3 separate regions of the Homo sapiens genome follow, and regions 1 and 2 are each linked to region 3. The links come from fine-mapping of genetic effects on gene expression. A gene starts in region 3. Each other region holds a variant in brackets. All regions are shown on one strand. Distances are from middle to middle.

Region 1 (7,528 bases), 28 kb before region 3:
CTCCTGCCTCAGCCTCCCAAGTAGCTGAGATTACAGGCGCCCGCCATCACACCCAGCTAATTTTTGTATTTGCAGTAGAGACGGGGTTTCACCATGTTGGCCAGGCTGGTCTCGAACTCCTGACCTCAGGTGGTCCAGCCGTCTTGGCCTCCCAAAGTGCTAGGATTACAGGTGTGAGCCACCATGCCCAGCCTGTTATCTTTATTTCAAAATGATGTGATTCCCTATAATGCAGAAATGAGTCCTTTTTGACTATCATATTATCACAAAAGTTTAAAGAGTATGTACCAGAGGTATAATCAACTTTATAAAGTGATTTCAGCATTATGAATCAAATACAGTCAAAATTCAGGAAGGAAACAATCACAATTTTTTTTTTTTGAGATGGAGTCTCGCTCTGCCGCCAGGCTGGAGTGCAGTGGTGCAATCTCAGCTCACTGCAACCTCCACCTCCCAGGTTCAAGTGATTCTCCTGCCTCAGCCTCCCAAGTAACTGGGACTACAGGTGCGTGCCACCATACTCAGCTAATTTTTGTATTTTTAGTAGAGATAGGGTTTCACCATGTTGGCCAGGATGGTCTCGATCTCTTGACCTCGTGATCCGCCCGCCTCCACCTCCCAAAGTGCTAGGATTACAGGCGTGGGCCACCGTGCCCAGCCAACAATCACGATTTTTAAAAACATGTCAAGGTCATTTAAAATATTTAAGACATGGAGAAACTATTACTTTCTAGAACGAAGCATTTTTATTACACACACATACAAAGACACACACACTTTCAGGAGATAAGGCAAAAAACTAAAATATGAATGTAAGTGACTGGTAATTCCAACACTACAGGGATAAATACTATAAACACAATGAATGCAATTAAACTTCAGATAACCAAACCAAATACGTGTTTCTAGCCTTAGTAAAAGACAAACACAAAAAGATTGAAAACACAAGCAGAAAGAATAAAACTTTTCAATGCTCAAGAAACATCAGAAGTGTTTTAAATTAACTGATCTTAAGCCTGTCCTAGGCCTAGAGAAGTCTGATTAAGCTGGCCTGGTAAAGGGCATAGAAATATTCTTAAATTTTTTATTTTTTTAAATTTTTTCTTTAGGCAGGGTCTTGATCTGTCACCCAGGTGGGAGTGCAGTGGTACAACCATGGCTCATGAAGCCTCGACCTCCCCAGCTCAAGTGATCTTCCCACCTCATTTTTTTATTTTTTGTAGAGATGGGGTCTCCCTATGTTGCCCAGGCTGGTCTCCAACTCCTAGGCTCAAGTGATCCTCCCACCTCGGCTTCCCAAAGTGCTGGGGTTACAGGCATGAGCCATGGCACCTGGCCTTAAATTTTTTTATTATATTTTTAAGATACTCCAATGACCCTGATGATCAGTGAAAGCTGCTATTTTAAAACACAAAGCTCATATAAATTTGGCATATATTAAGGCTAGTATGCCATGTATAGCAAAGGCATTTAAATTGAGCCTGAAAAATACGTCTTTATCAGTGTTAGAAGCCACTGATAAAACTTCTTTCATGAGGCCAAGAGAGGTTCTCAACTGGAAGTCAGAATATATCAGTAAAGGCTGGTTTTTAATGTCATCCCAAGAGGCTGAGCACACACCAAACCAAATAGGAGATGACCATCACGAGGCTGGGCGAGGGGCTAGCATAGTGCAATGCTGGTTACCTTCTCAAAGTGCAGTCGAGACAGAAGCACTGGGCTGTTGGATTGAGGACTCTTGTTGTAAGAGGGGCAGTACTTATCAGGGTCCCTCCACTCCGGGAGCCGCTGCTGGCCCCGCCGATCCTGGTAGGCGCAAGCTCTCGTGAGAACATCTCTAGGTAAGTGACAGGATGTTCGCCCACACATTCTTCAACACCGCCCCTCGCAACCTTTAAATTACAAAACGTAAGGAAAAGGCTTACGTATCTCAAATATTAGGTCTTATTCCTTGAGTCCCCGCCTTCTCTTTCCGTTCCCACAGGGCCGTGCCCCTCCGTGACCACCGTCTAAAGTCTTCCCCAAAAAGTCCCACAAAGACAAGGATGTGCCCGTTTGCTTCGCTCCCTGAGCCCACTGCCCAGCTCCGTGCAGGGCACTGAGGCAAGTCCCGAGAGGAGCTCTGCAAATGCCTGCCTGAGCGCAGGAAGAGCCGCAGCGGAGGGGGCTTCACAGTCCAGCGAAGCAGGGCAAGCGCAGCTAGCTGGGGTCGCCTCCTCCGGGTGACTTGGTGCCCCCAACTCCCCGTCCTTCCCCCCAGTCCCCGCTGGGGTCAGCGACCCACGCCGGCCAGCAACCGGTCACCTCGAGGGCGGCCACTGGACGGCCCGGGGCCGGGGTGCAGAATCCCCGCCTCCCGCCCGCTAGTCCGCAGCGTCCCCGGGCCCGACCTGCGAACCTGTGGGCCGCGGATCCCGCTCCGGACTCTGCTCCCCGGAGCGGGGGCCGGTGCTCGGGGAGCAGGTGGCCCCCAGCCACCGGCCGCGATCCCTCGCCCCTCCCCGCGTCGCCTCCGCTCCGCTCCGGCCCTCAGACTCCGCCGCCCCGCGTCGCCTCACTTCGGCCCAGGCCGCCCTCTCCGCGTCGCCTCGCGTCCGCTCGGGCCTCTGCTCCCCTCTGTCAGCTCGCGTCGCTTCCTTTCCCCTCCCCTCCCCTCGCCATACCCCGACCGCCCGCGTCGCCTCCCCTCCCCTCACCTCGCCCCGGCAGCGCGCGTCACCTCCCTCGACTCTCCTCACCCCCGCTCCGCTCCGCTTTGGCCACCCGCGTCACCGCCCCTCACGTCAGCCCCGCCTCAGCCCGCGCTCCCGGCGCCAGGCCCCGCCCCCAAGGGCCCTTGGTTCCCGCGGTGCCCTCGGGCCCCGGAGGCGGCGTCTTCTCCCCTCCGGTTTGGGATGAATTTTCTCCCGTTTCCCCAGGAGACAGTGACTGCCTTGGGAGACATATCGATCCCAAGCTTCTCGGGACTCCACTTTCCTCCATATTGGCCGTTCCCTGGCGGGGTTAACCTTCCTCCCCGCCCCCAGCGTGTTTCAGGGCTGGCAGGGAAGGTTCCCGCCGCGCTGAGTCTAGGGCACAGGGTCATGGAAGGCGGGAAACCAGGAAACTCCACTCCTTACTTCACAGTCCTGCCAGCTGCCTCACAGTGCGAGGCAAAAATGGAGGAACACTGAAGAAATGAAAGTCAGAAGAACTTCCAGGAATCGCGCACTTCGCCCTCAAACATTGGTGGGCACTAGAATAAGCCTTTCCTGCCCCAGCCCCTCAGCTGAATCTCTAAGGGTGAGGCCCAGATTTTTAAAACAGCCCTTTCGGGTGTACTTTGGCCTCAAAGTTGGTAAAATAGCCTGGCTTGAGTTTAAAAGCCTGCTCCCCTTGGGACCTAAACCGGAGATTCTTCATCTGCAACCAACAGAGAATGCTCTAGAGGGCTGTTCGCCTATGCTGATTCGCTGAACTGAACAGGGAGCAGAAACCCCAGGGCACACTCCATGTAAGACCAGATGCTGGAACGATCAGACACAGGACCCAAGCCCTTTGGAGCCTCCATTTATCGACTATCAAAGGAGGATGCGTTGTGAAGAAGCACGAACGGGAGGGAGTGTGAACTCTGCCTGTTAGCTGATTCACTCAACCACCCTCTACCGCTCCCACCCCTGGGCTTGGTGCTGGGACAGCGATGACGGGGAGAGGGTCCTGCCTCACAGGACTACAACAGCCAAAGGGCTGTGGGTGCAAGGGGGACAGGGCAGGTGTTCTGCCTCTTTAGGGGAGGCCTTGAAGGGGAAGGTGGAGCCCTGAAGCATGAGTCTGCAGAAGTAGCAATCATTCAATAAATACATGCTGATTTATTACAGGGATAAGATGGTTTCTTGGGGGATAGATTCAAGAGGAGTTGAGAATGTTTTATTCATTTACAATGTCCCTTTCCTGGAAGGGTGGACAGCAAGATTTAGGACAAGCTAAAATCATCCCCTATTTAAAAAAAAAAAAAAAAAAA[G/AG]TCACCAGCAAGTAGTCCCGGGTGGGAGGTGGGAGCAGAATAAAAAAAAATCTGCAATGATTCCTAATTGTTTTTCAATACAGAAGCTTGGGAAGGGGTTTCTGCCAGTTTCATGAGGAAGGCACAACTTCCAGGTAGTGTTGGGGAAGGGTATGAGGTCCTATGCAGGCTGGCCTCTTATCCCACAGATGCCAAGATGATGTCTACTGGCAGCTCCTCCAAACTTCTGGCTGTCACCTGCATTGTCACTGTGTCCAAAAGCAGCAGCCGGGAGCGCACCAGGATGTCATGACCACCCCGGAACACACCTAGAAGGGAAGAGAGAAGTACAGATATATACAGCAGAAGGGACTGTACAGGGCAGGCTAAGGATGGCATTTGCAGCAACCCATGAAGGCAGCTCTGGTGTAGTGAAACGGGCAGGAGAGCTGGGCTGAAATCCCTGAGTGAGGGATTTCACTGTGAAAGTCACTGTCTCTCAGCCAGGCGCGGTGGCTCACGCTTGTAATTCCAGCACTTTGGGAGGCTGAGGTGGGCAGATCATGAGGTCAGGAATTCGAGACCAGCCTGGCCAACACAGTGAAACCCCATCTCTACTAAAAATACGAAAATTAGCTGGGCATGGTGGTGGACGCCTGTAATCCCAGCTACTCGGGAGGCTGAAGCAGGAGAATCGCTTGAACCCGGGAGGCGGAGGTTGCAGCGAGCAGAGATTGTGCCACTGCATGCCAGCCTGGGTGACAGAGCTAGACTCCGTCTCAAAAAAAAAAAAAAAAAAGAAAGTCACTGTCTCTCAGGACTTCAGTATCCTCAACTACAAAGTGGCAGGGATGATAATACCATATTTCAGGCTTCTGCTAAGTTCAAATGAACTGATGGACATAAAAGGCTTATATCTCATGTCACAGAGGCTCTTGCACGTTGACTGAATCTGAGAGCACAAATGAAGGGGACAGCCCCACCACGAGAAAACCACAGGGCAGGTGTCTGCAAGACCCAGGGGACTAGGTTGTTTCAATGTGGCTACAAACTGTCAGCTGTAGGCAGGGTACTGAAGCAGAGCCTCCTTTCAACCCTGTTTATAAACACTCAGCCAAAAAAAATCATCCCATTTCCTTTTGTTAACTGTTTTAGGTATGATAATTGTATTGTCCTTTAAAAAAGGGAAGGGGTCATTCTCTCTTAGAGAAACATACAGATACAGGATTTACATATAAAATGCTATTTCTGGAGTTTGCTAGTAAATAATCTGGGAAGGAGAATGAGTGTGGGTACACTCAGCCAACCCTGTAGAAAATAAGACAAAGGATATGAAGACAATGATCAGAAAAGGAAATACAAATGCCTCAACATTTAAGAAGATACTTAACTTCATTGAAAATACAAAAACTACACTAAGATATCATTGTCCACACAGACTGGAAAAGATCATAAAGTGTGGTAACATATTATGTTGTCCACAGTGTAGGAAGAAAGGTATACAATTCTATGGAAGGCAACTTGGAGTTATTTATCAAGATGAGAAACACAAATCACTTTGAACTGGTGATGCCTTGGAAAATTTATCCTACAGATATTCTCAGTGTACACATGCAAAGTAAACTGTGTGTGTGTGTGTGTGTGTGTGTGTACACGATTATTTACTGTAACATCTGTAATAGCAAGAGATTGAAATCAAACTAAATGTTCATCAGTAGTGGCTGTTCCATAGAATATGTGGTGCATCCACACAATGGAATACTAAGCAACTATAAAAAAAATGAGGATTCAGTTTGGGATGAAAAAAGTTCTGGAGATGGATGGTGGTCATAGTTTTACAATAGTGTGAATGTACTTAATGCCGCTGAACCATACACTTGAAAATGGTCGAAATGGTGAATTTTATGTATATTTTACCACAATTAAAAGAAAAAGAATGAGGAAGCTCTACATATTGACGGGGAAGATCTCTAAGATGCAATGTAAAGTGAAAAGCAAATCGGAGGACAATATATATACCATTTGTACATAAACATTTGAGTTAAAAAAAGGAAATGCGTTCCTATTAGCTTTTATAGCCATAAAATAACCGCAAGGTTATACAAGTATTGTTTGTAATAGTAACACTGGTCGCTTCTCGGAAGGGAATCTGAATGGCTGGCAGCCAAGGTAGGGAGGAAACATTTCGCTGCAGATTATTTTATACTTTGTGAATTTTAAATGCTGTGAATTTTGACTCCCCATATTTACAGTGGAGTCCTTAGCCCAGGATCCAGTGGCATCCAGGCTGTAAGCTATCCAGGCCCTCCCCATCTAGAAATGCCACTTACCAGCCAGGAGCAACGTGTGGGTGTTCTTGTTATCCGGCACTTTGTCTGACCTCTCACAAGGGTGCATTCCCAAGAACTTCACAATATTACCCACAGCCTCTGTAATGAGAAATCCCAATATTGTTAAGCCATCTTATCTGCCCTTTGTGCCACCACCACTCCCCCATGTTCTGAAGGGCTTTTAATGAAGTGGCATTTGACATATGTGCTCCAGACATGGCCCTGGATCCTTGGAGAGAAAAGGGATGAGCACTTCAATAGTAGCCAAAGATCTTGAACAGTAATTAGGCCAGAGATGGCATTCCCAGGATTTTACCTTCAAGTGTCTTGATGGTAGACAAGGTGAACGTTTCCTCCTTCTCAAATTCATCCCCTACCTCATCCCAGGCTGCTTCGAAGTTCAGTTTCATGACCTTTTGAATGTGATCAGCTACAGTAACTTCCAGATCTTCCAGCTGGAGAGATGGAGGTAGAAATCAGGCACCCATCTACACACCTACGGGCCTCTGCTCTGAACTCATCCACACATCCCTTCCTGCAACTCTTTCCACAGGTGCTTGCTCGGCACTGAGGACTGTGCTAGACTCTGGGGACATAGAGCAACTTGACCAGGTACCTATCCTTGAGGTGCCCAAAGGCAAATGGTATCCCTTCAACAGAAAACGCCCTAATCCCAAGTACCAATCTACTAATTCAGCCTAGAGCCGCCTGCTGTGAGATCACATCTCTTCTAAGCCTGCCTAGTGTCAGTGCTTCCAGGACCTGGCATGCAGGGAATTACATAGCATTCTCAGAGGTCTGCTTCCTATGCCTGTCCCTCCTAGGGGATGATGAGCTCTTCAGGACCAGCAGCTGTTTCTAGTTCAGCAGAAACTAGCAGAAACCTCCTACCCCAGCTGTGTCCTCTGGATTTGACAGATCCTGAATCTCTATCTCCATTTCAGCTGTGTCTTCCCTGAACTTGACACATAATACTCCCACTGAGTCTACATGAAGGTTCCCCATTCATTCTCCCATCAGATTTTCACTGAGGCCCTACTCCTGTGGATGTTTACAGTGTATATAAATACAACTTAGACCCAGCTCTCTCTCTCTTTTTTTTTTTTCTTCATCTCTGGATGGGCTCAAACAGACCCAGCTCTCTCAAGGAGCTCACTTGGTCTTAGAGCAGCTCCTGCCTCGGGGTCATTTCCAGCTCAAGGAAGGTCCATCCATCCTC
Region 2 (7,528 bases), 130 kb before region 3:
GATGAAATAGCAACTCCTACCCTATTGTCAAAATCATCCAGCTTTTTCAAAACATCATATTGTACTGATTTTTTTGTGTTTTTGACAGAGTCTTGCTGTGTCACCAAGGCTGGAATGCAGTGGCATGATCTCGGCTCACTGTAGCCTCTGTCTCCCTGGTTCAAGCAATTCTGCCCCAGCCTCCCAAGTAGCTGGGACTACAGGCATGCGCCACCACACCCAGCTAAGTTTTGTATTTTTTTAGTAGAGTCAGGGTTTTACTTTGGCCAGGCTGGTCTTAAACTCCTGGCCTCAACTGATCTGCCTGTCTCGGCCTCCCAAAGAACTGGGATTACAGGCATGAGGCACCGTGCCTGTCCCATGTTGTACTTAATAGATATTTACCATATACAATTATTTTTTAATTTAAATAAATCAATGAACAGTGTTATTTTTTAAATCTTGTGGCTTTAATACACCCTTTCAATTCTCAGGGAGTGTTTTGGTGATACAGGCTGGGGAGTTAAATAAATGAACGAATAAACTTAGTTGTTATCCATTCAAATATTTGTTGAGCACCAACCTGTCTAAGGCACTGTGCTAGGCAGTGTGCAGTGTTATTAAGATGAGGTACGTGTTTGGTTCCTGGGTGTAAGGAGGTGACAATCTAGAGGGAAGGTTCTTAATTTCATTCTGTGCCCAAAACAACACCTATTCTGGGGATTTGTCATCTTCCTCCCTGCTGGCATTTCTGGGTGGGGCAGGAGAGGGAAGCTCCCTCCATGGGGATGCCTCCTCCCTCCTCTGAATCTTACAGCTTCCTCCATCTCCACTTTCCTACACTGGGGACATCTAAAAATATAATCTTGATCATTGTGTAACAATGTTCAAGTAATGGCTAGCATCTGCACAACCATCCCTGCTTTAAATTCCCCTTTACAACATCTCAGTTAAGCCTTGTGACTGCAGTGGGCATTCTCACTACCCCCATTTCAGAACTGGGAGGACCGGGGCTCTGAGGGAAGCCGCTGGCCTGAGGTCCCAGAGCCCCTTACGTGACACAGCTGGCTCTCAGCCGGCTTCTGAGTCCTGGTCTGGTCCAGTCTCCTCTCTTCATGCCTACAAGTCTTGATCTAACCCAAGGCGGGCATCACGTCCCTCTTTGCCACTCCTTCAATGTCAGCCCAGGAATATGGACAAAATGAGCAGCTCCTTAATTGACTGTGGGGAGATAAAGAGGGAAGGGGTAGGGGAGTGGAGGTTGGAAGCCATTCCTTCCTCCATCTGAGGTTCTAGATGGAAACACAGCTCAGGAACATACCTGGGCCTTTCCTTATGTGCAGAGAGGGGTCAGATGTTTTCAGCCATCTCTCTAGCTTTCATAGACTAGGCCAGGAAAGGACACAACGAATCAAGTCCATGAATCCCGCCATGAAGGTACGTGGGAAGTGCCCACATTGCTGTCAGAATCAGAGACCTTGACCATCTCTCCCACCTTAGTTGGCAGATGCTAAGAAAAGCAGCATTGTGTGCAGCATCATGGCCAGTGACTACACCGATAATAAAAGCCGCCATTTACGGAGTGCCTGTGATGTGCCAGGCTACTAGTCAGGTGCTTCCCATAGAGAACAGCTAATAAGAGTGACAGCCAGAATCTGACATGCTGCTCCTGGGTCAGGCTTTACAGGCATCCTCCCATTTGATCCTCACAGCTTTGTGAGGATGGGGCCTGTCATCACCCTACGTCTATAGAGAAGCAATCTTAGAAAGGGTGTCACCTACCCAGGCCCACAGTGAGGAAGTGGCTAAGATACAAGCCCAGGTCAGCCTAACTCCAGAGACTGCTGCAGTCTATGGCCTCTCCGTGCCACCTGCGTCCCCATCTGCCTTCTTAAGGGACCCCACAAGGACCAAACTCCAGCTCCTGCTGGCTAGATGCTTACCTTCTTTGCTGTTTCAAAATCTAAACCTAGCGCTTCCATGGCCAGTGCACGCCAATCAGTGTCTGTGACACCCAAGCAAGCAATCTGGTAGGCTTCCTTGAACAGTTTCCTATCCAGGTACTGGTACATGGGAGCAGACTGCAGGATTTCATCAAGGGAAAAAAAGACTGTTTTCAGGGCCATGGAAAGAACCAGATGCATACAGAGCCTGCCTCCAGATGCGTGGGACGATTACCCATGCCTGGGGAGCAGCCCTGCAGCCGCCAATCAGCACCCTGCCCAGCCTGCCCAGCCCACCCTGTGTGCTCCGTCCTGCACCTCTCTCATGACTGGGCTACTGTGCTCCACAGCACAAACTCTGCCCATCCTCCCCTCCTTCCCACCTGCAGGCCTGCCTCACCATAGGATGTTACCCTCGTCTGGAATGCCTTTGCCCCTCCCCACTCTCCCTCTGAAAAATACCTATTTGGCTTTCAAGGCCCTGTTGAAATGTCACCTCTTCTGGAGAGTCCTCCTGAGCCCCTCAAGCCCCCACCCCAGGGGAAGGAGTCTCAGCTTCCTCTGCCCTTTGTCCAGATTTCGGGTTGTGATGCAGTTATAGGCCTGTTCCTACAGCAAGGCGGTGCATAGCCCATGGGCAGTGATGGGTTGTACCCGCCACCTTTGGCAGGCCCCCAGTCTATGTTTGCTGACAGAATGAATGAGTTCCTGGGAGGAAGGGGTCTGGGATGGCCTCTTCTTCCAGGGACTGAGTCCAAGAAAGGTAAGTGATTTGCTCCAAGTTACCCTGGAAACCCCTGGAAACAGGTCTCCTGCTCCCTGCCCTGGGGACAGATGCCATCCTACAAGATGGGGTTGCCTTGCTGTGAGTGCCCATGAATAGTTCCTAACGACTTCTCTTTCTTAGGTTTATAAAGGGCTTTTGGCTGTCCCCATAGTCCTGTACAGTAGATATTATTTCTCCCTGGCTACAGCCCAGGAGACCGAGACTCAGAGAGGACAACTGACCTGTCCCAGCAAATAGCTGGCAATAGCCAGAGGTGACTTGACTCCAGGTTCTGTGCCCCTTCCTGCCACGTATGTGGTCATGTGTATATGTGCATATGTGTGTACATGTTACTGGTGGAGGGTCTTGACCACAAGCCATCAGGTTCTTGGTGTTTTCAACAAAGAATTGAACAAAACACACAAAGCAGTGAAGGAATGAAGCAACAAAAGCACAGATTTATTGAAACCAAAGTACACTCCACAGAGTGACAGCAGGCTTGAGGAAGTGGCTCAAGAGCACCAGTTGCAAAATCTTCTAGGGTTTGAGTACCTTCCAGAGGTTTCCCATTGGTTACTTTGTTATACCCTACGTAAATGAAGGAATGGTCCACAACCATTGTGATTGGTTGCAGGAGGGGACCAATCAGAGGTACTTTTTTATTTTTTATCTGCTATGTAGTGCAAAGGGAGTAGCCTCTGATCCTTTTGTTACTTGGGTGTGAAGAGGTGAGGTTTTCCTTTTGATTCAGTTCTAGGAAGTCAGCATGAATCGGCCTTAGGTTCCCTCCCTCCAGACCCTATTCTCCTGCGTCATGCGGGAACAAGAACGAGTCTGAGTTTGGCCGGGACATCTTCAACAAGGAAAGGCCTTGCCCTTGTTTTAGGCCAGCCAGTGTGCTTCGGGGGCCTGCATCTCTCCTGGCTTCCTGGGCAGGAAAGAGCAGTCACCTGGGA[C/T]CTCTGTGCTAATGGTTCCCAAATGTGGATGTGGAAGTGCTGTTTTCTCTGTTTGGGGTCTTTATCTTTGAAATTTCCAGTCCCATCTTTTAGTTTTAGTATTGAAGGCAAGTTTTTTCTCTTTAAGCTTGTGTAAACCAAAAGTAAAACTCTAAGCCCTCTGTGCCTCCATTGAATGAACCCCTCCCCTTGGAGAAGGGGAATTCCAAAAAACCCCTAAAAAACTAGTTCCAACCATCATGGGCATAAGGGGTCAGACTTGCCTCATTTTACCCTCCTCCCTTTAGAGTTTAGACACAATAGACCAGTATTAACAAGAAAACTGGGGTCTCAAGACTGACAAAACAGACTCTGTAGCAATGAGGCAGGATAGTACAGTCTGGAGGCAAGGAACTTAAGGCCAATTCATGCTGAATCAAGGAAAAACACCAAGGTCTGGGGGGAAGCAGGGAATCTGAGGCCAATTTGTGCTGACTTCCCAAAGCTGGATCAAAAGGGAAACACCTGGGTCTGGAGGCAGGGGCCCTAAGGCCAGTTAATGCCAACTTCCTGAAGCTAAACCGAAAGGAAAAACCCAGCTCCCCATGCCTTAGTAGCAAAGGGTCAAAGGTTACTCTTTCTACAACCCTCCCCCTTCCACCATGGCTTAGACAAAAAGGGAGAGTGGCTTGGAGTGGCCACAGGCCAAGCAGGGACCATCCCTTCATCTGCATAGGGTGCCATTCACCTCAGTGTTTACTTAGCCACAGACCAAATCCTTCAACTATATAAGGGGTAACTGATAGGAACCTCAAAAGGAGTGCTTGAAACCCAGAAAACTTTGTAACTGGGCCCTTGAGCTGCTCGGGCCCAGTCCCACCCTGTGGCGTACCTTCTCTCTTTTATAAATCCCTGATTTTGGTACTTCGATCCTGTGTTTCATTCCTTTGTTACTTAGTGCATTTTGTCCAGTTTTTTGTTCAAAACACCAAGAACCTAGACAACTTACACCCAAGGCCCTCCTTCCAGTAACAGCAATAGAACACCGTATTTCAACATGATTCTGATATACCATTGATGGCAGTGGCTGCTCCAGATCACTGTGTTTTGGACAATGAAATGTAGCCAACTGTTCAACTGTAGCTCCCAGCTGCAGCAGGGAGACGTGGCTGGGGTTGCACACTCCATGAAGCCCTTCCAAGTTGGGGTGGGAGCTCCCCAGGTGCCACTGCAGCTGCCCAAACCATTGGGTTGCAGACCTGGGCCTCCCACTCCACAGAGCAGGCAGGAGCCCTGCCCTCCGGGGCAGGGCTGTAGCTGCCCAACTTGTGGCTGCAGGTCTGAGCCTCCCTGTGCTCTTGGGAGGCCAGGAGCAAGCAGGATCCCTGCCCTCCCAGGCACAGCTGTAGCTGCCTAAACCATGGCTGCAGACTCAGGCACCCCTGCACTCTTGAGGGCCAGGAAGCATCCCTTCCCCTTGCAGGCTCAGCAGTGCCTGCTCCCATTGCCTGGCTTCTCCCTGCTGTTGTTGCCCACTCCAATCTTGGAGGAATGTTGGGGCCAAGCTCAGGTGTCATGAAGGCAGCAGGAGGCAGACAGATTCCTGGATGGAAGGGGGCCGGTCCCCAGTGAGGCCCCACCTTCAGGCCAGGGAGGGTCTGAAGGCTGGGAACCAAGGCTGCCAGTCTCATGGACTGGACTGGGAACTTGTGGTGCCTTTTCCAGGCCCACCCAAGTACCAATCAGCATACACTTTTTCCCCTCTGAGGCCCATAAAAACCCCAGGTTCAGCCAGAGCTAAGCAGACTATGGGATGACCAGCTGCAGAGAAGAGCTACCCTTTCTGCTGAGAGCTTCACAGGCCTGCAGAGATGTTGGGACTACCAGCTTCAGAGAGGAGCAACCCACTCCAGGGCTTCCTCTCTGCTAGGAGTTCGGCAGATGTCAGGACGACCAGTAGAGAGTGGAGCTACCCTCTCCAGGGGCTCCAATCTACTGAGAGCTGCAGAGACAATGAGATGAACTGCCTGCAGAGAGGAGCCACCCTCCCAGGGCCTCCTCTCTGCTGAGAGCTGAACACTCCACAGGACCACCTGCCTACAGAGAGGAGCTACCCATTGTGGGTCTCCTTATGCCCATGATGGTTGGAACTAGTTTTTTTTCATGACAGCATCATGAAACAGTAGGCCCTTAAGGAAATCAAAGTATTTTACCCCAAAATATATTTTGTTGACATATTTTGAAATGGGCCTGCAAAGCTTTCTCTTGTGTGGGAAAATTTGCATTCTGTAGAGAATCTCCTTCTCTTACTAGGTCTTTTCTGGAGAGGCTGACACTTTTTAAGGTCAGACAAGAGACATTTGCCATCTATTCTCTCTGAAGTTTGCTACCTGAAGGCTTCATCTACATGAAAAGAACCTGGGCTTGGCTGGGCACTGTGGCTGACACCTGTAGTCCCAGCACTTTGGGAGGCCGAGGTGGGTGGATCATGAGGTCAGGAGATTGACACTATCCTGGCTAACATGGTGAAACCCCATCTCTACTAAAAATATAAAAAATTAGCTGAGCATGGTGGTGGGCACCTGTAGTCCCAGCTACTCAGGAGGCTGAGGCAGGAGAATGGCATGAACCCAGGAGGTGGAGCTTGCAGTGAGCTGAAATCACACCACTGCAGTCCAGCCTGGGCGACACAGTGAGACTCCATCTCAAAAATAAAAATAATAATAATAATGTTATCATTAGGATTATCATTATTTGATTCATATTTTTACTACTCAACAAATGTTGAATGATAAACATATACATTAGGCTGGGAGTGGTGGCTCATGCCTGTAATCCCTGCACTTTGGGAGGCCGAGGCAGGTGGATCATCAGTTCAGGAGATTGAGACCATCCTGGCTAACACGGTGAAACCCCGTCTCTACTAAAAATACAAAAAATTAGCCAGGCGTGGTGGCAGGCGCCTGTAGTCCCAGCTACTCAGGAGGCTGAGGCAGGAGAATGGCATGAACCCTGGAGGCGGAGCTTGCAGTGAGCTAAGATCGCACCACTGCACTCCAGCCTGGGCAACAGAGCGAGACTCCGCCTGTAGTCCCAGCTACTTGGGAGGCTGAGGCAGGAGAATGGCATGAACCCTGGAGGCGGAGCTTGCAGTGAGCTAAGATCGCACCACTGCACTCCAGCCTGGGCAACAGAGCGAGACTCCGCCTGTAGTCCCAGCTACTTGGGAGGCTGAGGCAGGAGAATGGCGTGAACCCAGCAGGTGGAACTTGCAGTGAGCCGAGATTGTGCCACTGCACTCCAGCCTGGGCGACAGAGTGAGACTCCATCTCAAAAAACAAAAACAAAAAGAAACAAACAAACAAAAACCAAGCTGTGACCCAGCCACCTTGGGCACATGTTCTCAGGACCTCCTTAGGCTTTGTCAGGCCATGGCCCTTGACCTTAGCAAAAGAAACCTAAGGTGATGGAGACTTGTGTCAAATACTTTTTGGTTTATAGCCATTTACCCTCTGACAGCAAGACGTGGCTGCTCCCAAGAGCTTATCTTTTCCACTGTGCCATCCTTCTCACCTTCCCCTCCTTTAGCCGGGCAGCAGGCATGGGCTGGGGAACAGGTGACCTAGCTCAGCTACATCCTAGGCTTGTGACTTAGGGTAAATCCATTAACTTTTTTTTTTTTTTTTTTTTAGATGGAGTCTCACTCTGTTGCCGAGGCTGGAGTGCAGTGGCGTGATCTCAGCTCACTGCAACATCCACCTCACAGGTTCAAGCGATTCTTGTGCCTCAGCCTCCCAAGTAGCTGGGATTACAGGCATGCACCACCACGCCAGCTAATTTTTGTATTTTTAGTAGAGACAGCATTTCACTGTGTTGGCCAGGCTGGTCTCAAACTTCTGACGTCA
Region 3 (7,528 bases):
ACCGCTTGTACTCTCTTGTTTATTTTTCTTGTGTTCTCTCTTTATACTCAAGAAAGTCTTTGGGAAAGTTCTAAGCTGGTTTGGTTGACTAAGAGAAATCAAGAAAAGGAAGCATTTGTGTCCAAGTCAAGGTCAGAGAATTAAAATAGAAACAGCACACCTGGAGGCTGCCATGGGGTGGGCAGTGGTAACAGGGAAGCTGCCACGGGGTGGGCAGCTGGCAATATGCAACCAAGTCTCACTGTCTGGTACACACAAGAAAAAAATGGTCTGTCAATGGAACCCATCAGAAGAGCCACCCACAACCCCATGACTTGCCTGCTGGTGACAATGATGACATCCTCTGCAATGCAAGACATCTCCTTGATGGTCAAGTAGCACATCCGACGGAGTGTGGGCTGGGAGATAGGTGGGAAAAGCCCTATCAGCCCGGGCTCACCAAGGGCCAGAGTTGGGAGAAGATACCTCCTGTCTCCACAAAGGCAGCCCACACTGACTGGTGGGGCCAGCTCTCTTTGGCCCTCCCACCACCTTGTTACAGCTGCCACCTCTCAAGGAAAGCTGGGTTGAGGCACTTACATCATTGGACTGAAAGAGCTTGGTCATGGCAAAGAAGGCCTCGGTCGCTTCCGTGGTCCCCAGGTGCTCCCCCTGTGTTAATCAAGAAAGAAGTCTCAGCTTGGGACAGAGGGTCAGACAGCAGTTCTTTCAGGATCAGCCCACACCAGATCCCCAGACCCTAAAGAGGCTCAAGGGCAACATATGAGACTTGGATGCTGAGGGGACCCAGAGCTGAGCTGTTGTCTACAGCCACACAGAGGCTGTCCAATAGCCTAAGAGTGATCATGATTTGTCCACTCCCCTCCAATCCCCCAGCACCATTCTCCCTACCCGCAAGCTTCACCCTGTTACCTGGTTTATGAGATAAAGAATCTTGGTGAGGATGTGGGCACATTTCCGAGGGTTGATGGGAGTTTCATTAAATACACGGGCCTAAGAAGAAATGACCAAAGATGTTACCTTCTAGCCTAGTTCATTTCCCTTCAAGTATATTCAATGTCTGAGAAGTCTCAGGGTAAACTGACTTGTCTAAACAGGGCTTTCTGGGTATGCAACAAGCTTATTTTCATAAGGAAAGGGTTTGTTTTTCTTTAATCAACTACTAATTATTCTTAGACTCTCGTGTAAATATTAGTTAGGGATGTGCTAACCTATTGACTAGCAGATACTTAGCAACCATCTGCTAACTGGAAACAGAAACAATGAACGACAACAATAAAGAAAGAAGCGGCTGGACGCAGTAGCTCACACCTGTAATCCTAGCACTTTGGGAGGCCGAGGCGGGTGGATCACCTGAGGTCAGTTCGAGACCAGCCTGGCCAACATGGTGAAACCCCGTCTGTACTAAAAATACAAAACTTAGCCAGGCATGGTGGTGGGCACCTGTAATCTCAGCTACTCGGGAGGCCGAGGCAGGAGAATTGCTGGAACCCAGGAGGCGGAGGTTGCAGCAAGCCAAGATCATGCCATTGCACTCCACCCCAGGCTGACACCAGCAAGTCTCCATCTCAAAAAAAAAAAGAGAAGTGGCCGGGCGCGGTGGCTCACGCTTATAATCCCAGCACTTTGGGAGGCCGAGGCGGGAGGATCAAGAGGTCAGGATTCACACCATTCTCCTGCCTGGCCAACATCGTGAAACCTCATCTCTACTAAAAATATAAAAATCAGCCAGGCATAGTGGCGTGCGCCTGTAGTCCCGGCTACTTGGGAGGCTGAGACAGAAAAATTGCTTGAACCCAGGAGGCAGAGGTTGCAGTTGAGCCGAGATCGTGCCACTGCACTCCAGCCTGAGCAACAGAGTGAGACGCCTTCTAAAAAAAAATACATATATATATATATATAAAAAATATATATAATAAAAATAAACAAGTCATGCAAAATCTCTACCTGCATAATGGCCACAGTCTAGCTTAGGTGATAGTTTTAAACCAGTTTCCTTAGCTTTGGAATTAACTTTAAATAGAGAAATTTTTTAAATGTTTAAATAGAGAGGCCAGGCGCGGTGGCTCAAGCCTGTAATCCCAGCACTTTGGGAGGCCGAGGCGGGTGGATCACGAGGTCAGGAGATCAAGACCGTCCTGGCTAACGCGGTGAAACCCCGTCTCTACTAAAAATACAAAAAATTAGCCGGGTGTGGTGGCGGGCGTCTGTAGTCCCAGCTACTTGGGAGGCTGAGGCAGGAGAATGGCGTGAACCTGGAAGGCGGAGCTTGCAGTGAGCCGAGATCACGCCACTGCACTCCAGCCTGAGCGACAGAGCAAGACTCTGTCTCAGAAAAAAAAAAAAAAAAAAAAAAAAAAAGAAGTAAGCATAACTAACTCTCTCCAGAAACAAAGTTTTCCTGTCTTCCAGAAAACTTCCAGGCACAAGTTTTCTCCCGTGTTGCTCTTTAAAACAACACTTTGAATGTGTTGGTATTTCAGTTGCATTGGTGGTGAATATTTATGATGGAAGCTAGAGGGGAGCAAATGTCACTTGCCTCCTGGAGTACCGCACTCTTCTCAAGGTGCTGGAATGGGTTGGAGCCTCCACCTACGGTCAAGGACAATGGAGAAGGTAGGTTGTGACTCTGAACTTCAAAACTCTCCCAGACATAGGTAAAGGGAAGATGTCCCTTCCTAGGAAATCTAGTAAAGTTCAAACTCCTCAGGAATGGCAATCAAGCCTCTACAATCTGTCTAGGGATCCTACTAGTCTCCTGCAAGCAGGTGGGCTCCACTCTACCCCAAACCACTCACAATCTCCCAGCAGCCCTGGTACAGTCCTGTGCTTCTCATGGTGCCATGTCTTGTGTTCATTTATATAACTTGTAATTAACTAAGTCCCTATGTGCCAGGGACCACCATCTCGTTGTAACTAGTTCCTTCATAGCAGATGACACATTTGCAAATAATTACACGTGTGATTATCTGGTTGATGTCTGCCTCCTCCATCGTGGGTGCAACCATTCTAATATTCCTAGCTCAGGCACTGAGTGTCCCACTTGCTCTGTTGCAGTATCCAGGACACCGTACAGTACCTGGCATACAGTAACTGCTCAATATACTTTGCTGAATAAATGAATGATGGGGTCAGAGTTCCCAGTCACAGGACGCTGGCTCCGCAGGTTACACCCCAGTTTGGCCAGCACCAACGTAGCCCCAGCGAATCCCAAGAGGTTGGACGAAGAAAGTAACAAGAGAACATTCGGCATGGTCCCCTCCTTTGACAGATGGGTAAATTGAGGCCTGGGGGGGGGGGTGTTTGTCGCGCCCAAGGTCACCCAGAAAATTGCAGTCCGAGCTTACAAGAGTGAGACAGCCGCGCATGCTCGGGCTCTCCGAGGCCTGCCACTGACTAGCTGTGGACCCTGGCACAAGCCCCTGCCCCTCACTGGGCCTCAGCCTCCGGGTCAGGACAGAGAACCAGAAGGAAAGCTCGGCGGGTGGGGGTCCGGCCTCCCTCAGACCCAGGCCTGGCCCCCTCACCTGACTCCTCATCCTTCTTGTCGAATTTCTTCAACATAGTGGAGTCGGTGGGGCGCAATGCAGCAACGCAATGCTCGACGGGCGCGGCACGGAGTAGCGGTGCCACAGTGGTTCTACAGGGACCACTTCCGGGCCCCGACTGGCCACGTCGCCCAGCGCTCTGCGCAGGCGCATTCCGCGCTCTGCGCCTGCGCTCTTTCCGGTAGCCACAGCCTCGTCTAATGTTAACCTTAGCTCCGCCGGAGCGGGAGTGGGGAAAGCCAGACGGAGGGGCAAGGGCTAGGTGCAGGGGGGTACTGACTAGCATCCCAACTCTGCTCCCTACGCTTCTTTCCGTATACCAAGGGAGGAGGAGGAGCCCCTGCCTCGTTGCGTTGTGGCGTGAGTCTTTGTGGCTTTCGGGTGTGAGGTTGGTGGCACACACTGGCCCGCAGTAAACACCCAATTGATGTGACCGGTCTATGACTGTTATTGCCACCTTCCGAAGGAGCCTTGCCAGCCACTCACTCCTCGCTTTCAGATTCTTTCCCCTGCCTGATTTCCTCCTCAGCTCGAATCGCCATCTAACACTTTATTTTTACTTTCTGGCTTTTATTTGTTTATTTATTTCTCGTTCTGCTGCCCAGGCTGTGGTGCAGTTGTGCGATCCTGGCTCACTGCAGCCTACAGTTCCTGGGCTCAAGCGATCCTCCCACCTCAGCCTCCCGAGTAGAGCTGGGCGCACCACCCCCGACTAATTTTTTAATTTTTGTAGAGACGAGGTCTCACTATGATGTTGCCCAGTCTGGTCTTGAACTCGTGGCCTCAAGCGATCCTCCTTTCTCGACCTTCCAAAGTGCTGGGATTACAGCGGTGAGCCACTGCACCCGGCCACTTTCTTGCTCTTTTGTTTTTTTTTTTGTTATTTGCTTGTTTGTTTGTCTTTTATTCACTGCAGTGGATAATGTTGGCACATAGTAGTTGCTCAGTGAGTTCTCGTTGAATGAATGCGTGCAATTGCATTTTTAATTTATATCTGCCGGGCCCTATCTCGTCTGCTCCTGATGCAAATTGCCTTGTACATTATCAACCTTAAGAGATCTAACTAAACAGCATAGAACTTCTACGTTATTTTGTAAATACTTTGGATATTTATGGAGTGCCAACTAGATGCGCTGCCTACGCGGGGAGGTGGGGGGAAGGGCGTGGGAAGGAACGGAAAGGGGAAAATGACACATCACCCAGGGTTTATCTTCCTGGGGACCTATGCAGGACACCCTGAGGCTAAGGTAAGCACAGTGCATGCCAGTGAGCCAGATTGCATTGGCAATGGCAAAGTCGTGATGGCCAAGCGCTGCGACACGGCCCCAGCTTGCCTGGGGAGGGGAAGCCCGCAGGCCTGTGGGCAGGAGAAGGAGTGGGCTGTGGAGAGGAGAGGCAGGAGGCTGAGGCAGAGGCCCCAGGTGAAAAGGGTGACCGCAAAGCTGGAGGAAGGGAGATGTCAGAGGGGCCAGCCCTTAGGGTCTGGCTTTGCAGAGGCTAGGGCCAAGGACAACAGATCTTGTGACATGCAAAATTGTCAAGAGTCAGAAAGATGTTCAAAATGTCTGATCGGTAACCCCACCCCTAATCAGGAGGAAATTGTTCAAAAGAAGAAAATGAGGCCGGGCGCAGTGTCTCAAGCCTGTAATCCCAGCACTTTGGAAGGCTGAGGCAGGTGGATCACCTGAGGTCAGGAGTTTGAGAGCAGCCTGACCAACATGGTGAAACCCCATCTCTACTAAATACAAAAAAAAAAAAAATTAGCCTGGCGTGGTGGTGCATACCTGTAATCCCAGCTACTCGGGAGGCTGAGGCAGGAGAATCGTTTGAACCTGGGAGGCGGAGGCTGCAGTGAGCTGAGATCACGCCGTTGCACTCCAGCCTGGAGTCTGGGCAACAAAAGCGAAACTGTCTCAAAAAAAAGAAAAAAGAAAATGAAGTTGCCTGCTGCAGCAGTTTGCAGCAAAATAATTGTAAACACCCTAAATGTCTATCAATAAAGGGATGATTAAGGAAGTTATGGTACATCTGAGGACTAAACTGATTTTTATCTTGTCTCAGCTACTCCAGGAGTCTGAGATGGGAGGATTGCTTAAGCCTGGGAGGTCAAGGCTGCAGTGAGCCATGATCATGCCTCTGTACTTCCAGCGTGGGCAACAGAGCAAGACCCTGTCTCAAAAAATACATAGGGGTGGCCAGGCGAGGTGGCTCACGCCTCCAGCACTTGGGAGGCTGAGGAGGGTGAATCACCTGAGGTCAAGAGTTTGAGACCAACCTGACCAACATGGTGAAACCCCGTCTCTACTAAAAATATAAAAATTCACTGGGCATGGTGGCAGATGCCTGTAATCCCAGCTACTCGGGAGGCTGAGGCAGGAGAATTGCTCAGGAGGTGGAGGTTGCCCTGAGCCAAGATCGTGCCATTGCACTCCAGCCTGGGTGACGGGCGAGACTCTGTCTCAAAAAAAAAAAGTGTATATACATATATATATATATACACACACACACACACACACACACACATGCATATATAAATAGGTGTACAATTCAGTGGGTTTTAGTATATTAAAAAAAGTTTATGTACCTGTCCGCACTAATTGGAGAACATTTTCATCATCCCAAAAAGAAAGCTATTCATTAGCAGTCACTTTCCATTTGCCCATCTGCCCAGCCCCTGGCAACCACTAATCTACTTTCTGTCTATAGATTTGCATGTTCTGGATATTTCATATAAACAGAATCATATGCTATGTAGTCTTTTGTGTGTTTTGCTTCTTTCATTTAGCATGTTTTCAAGACATGTTATAGCATGAATCAGTACTTCATTCCTTTTGTAGCTGGATAATATTCCATTTTATGGATTTACTATATTTTGTTTGTTAATCAGTTGATGGACATTTGGCTTGTTTCCAGTCTAGCTCTTGTGAACAAAGCTGTGAATGCTGTGAACATTAATGTACAAGCTTTTGTGCAACCCTATGTTTTAACTTCTCTTGGGTCTATACCTAAGAGTGGTATTACTAGGTCATATGGTAACTATGTTTAACTTTTTGAGAACTGTCTAACTGCTTTTCCAAAGCAGCTGCACCATTTTACATTCCCACCAGCAGTGTATGGGGGTTTCAATTTCTTCATATCCTTGTCAACACTTGTTACTGTCTTTTTGATTATAGCCATGCTAGTGGGTGTGAAGAGGTTTCAATTTGCACTTTCCTGATGGCTACTGATGTTGAGCATCTTTTCATGTGCTTATTGGTCATTTGTACATCTTCTTTGAAAAAATAGCTGTTCATATCCCTTGCTCGTTTTAAAATTATTTTATCTTTTTATTTAGAGTTGTATGAGTTATTTAAGTCTAGACCCCTTCTTCTTTTTTTTTTTTTTTTTAGACAGAGTGTAGCTCTGTCACCCAGGCTGGAGTGCAGTGGTGCAATCTCAGCTCACTGCAACCTCTGCCTCCCAGGTTCAAGCGATTCTCATGCCTCAGCCTCCCTAGTAGCTGGGACTACAGGCGTGTGCCACCAGACTCAGCTAATTTTTGTATTTTTGGTGGAGACGGGGTTTCACCATGTTGGCCAGGCTGGTCTTGAACTCCTGACCTCAAGTGATCCTCCCGCCTCGGCCTCCCAAAGTGTTGGGATTACAGGCATGAGCCACCATGCCAGGCCAATAGAGATTATTTTTATGATTCTTTATAACCACCACCACCTTCCATATTCTAAGGATTTCCGCAGCCCTCTTCTGAGATGCACTCTCTTGCCCTCTAGGTGGCACCAACTCTTTAATTTTACCTCTAGTTTTTTAGCGACGGCACAGCTGGAAGAGGCTTGAAGCCCCCATGCCAGGCCCTGTCTGTCCACTAGGGTGACCCAGGGCAGTTTCAGAGTCCGGGGACTAACTCCCTTCAATATAACAGGGAGACTCAGGACTACCCTTGCTTTAGAGGCAGCTTCCAGCCTCATAAAATGAGTTTTCCAGTA

Which allele goes with the higher level. Positions count from the first base shown, and alleles are read on the strand shown. Sizes are in standard deviations (SD) of each study's normalised expression. Not every link is listed here.
In carriers of allele AG in region 1, the expression in monocytes after interferon gamma of the gene that starts at base 3,668 in region 3 tends to be lower than with G alone (small effect, 0.32 SD a copy in Fairfax 2014).

What was found.
Region 1: its variant is fine-mapped to the expression of COPG1 in monocytes after interferon gamma (Fairfax 2014, PIP 0.95).
Region 2: its variant is fine-mapped to the expression of COPG1 in atrial appendage (GTEx, PIP 0.99).

Annotation. Positions count from the first base shown.
Region 1 is chr3:129,274,074-129,281,601 of GRCh38, reverse strand. COPG1 (coat protein complex I subunit gamma 1) reads right to left here. Exons shown (of 24, transcript NM_016128.4): 22 at 6,626-6,764; 23 at 6,310-6,408; 24 at 3,829-4,308. The coding sequence ends at 4,178. HMCES (5-hydroxymethylcytosine binding, ES cell specific) reads right to left here and starts at 2,732. Exons shown (of 7, transcript NM_020187.3): 1 at 2,697-2,732; 2 at 1,687-1,892. The coding sequence starts at 1,869. RefSeq lists an enhancer at 1,578-1,707 and silencers at 2,128-2,517, 2,528-2,877. The variant G/AG (reference allele first, on the strand shown) is at 4,001.
Region 2 is chr3:129,375,833-129,383,360 of GRCh38, reverse strand. It overlaps the pseudogene RPL32P3. Among named protein-coding and RNA genes, the nearest start is that of SNORA7B, 18 kb to the left of the region's middle. The variant C/T (reference allele first, on the strand shown) is at 3,645.
Region 3 is chr3:129,245,746-129,253,273 of GRCh38, reverse strand. It overlaps COPG1 (coat protein complex I subunit gamma 1), which reads right to left and starts at 3,668. Exons shown (of 24, transcript NM_016128.4): 1 at 3,528-3,668; 2 at 2,540-2,592; 3 at 913-993; 4 at 580-651; 5 at 319-398. The coding sequence starts at 3,564. RefSeq lists a cis regulatory region at 7,112-7,528.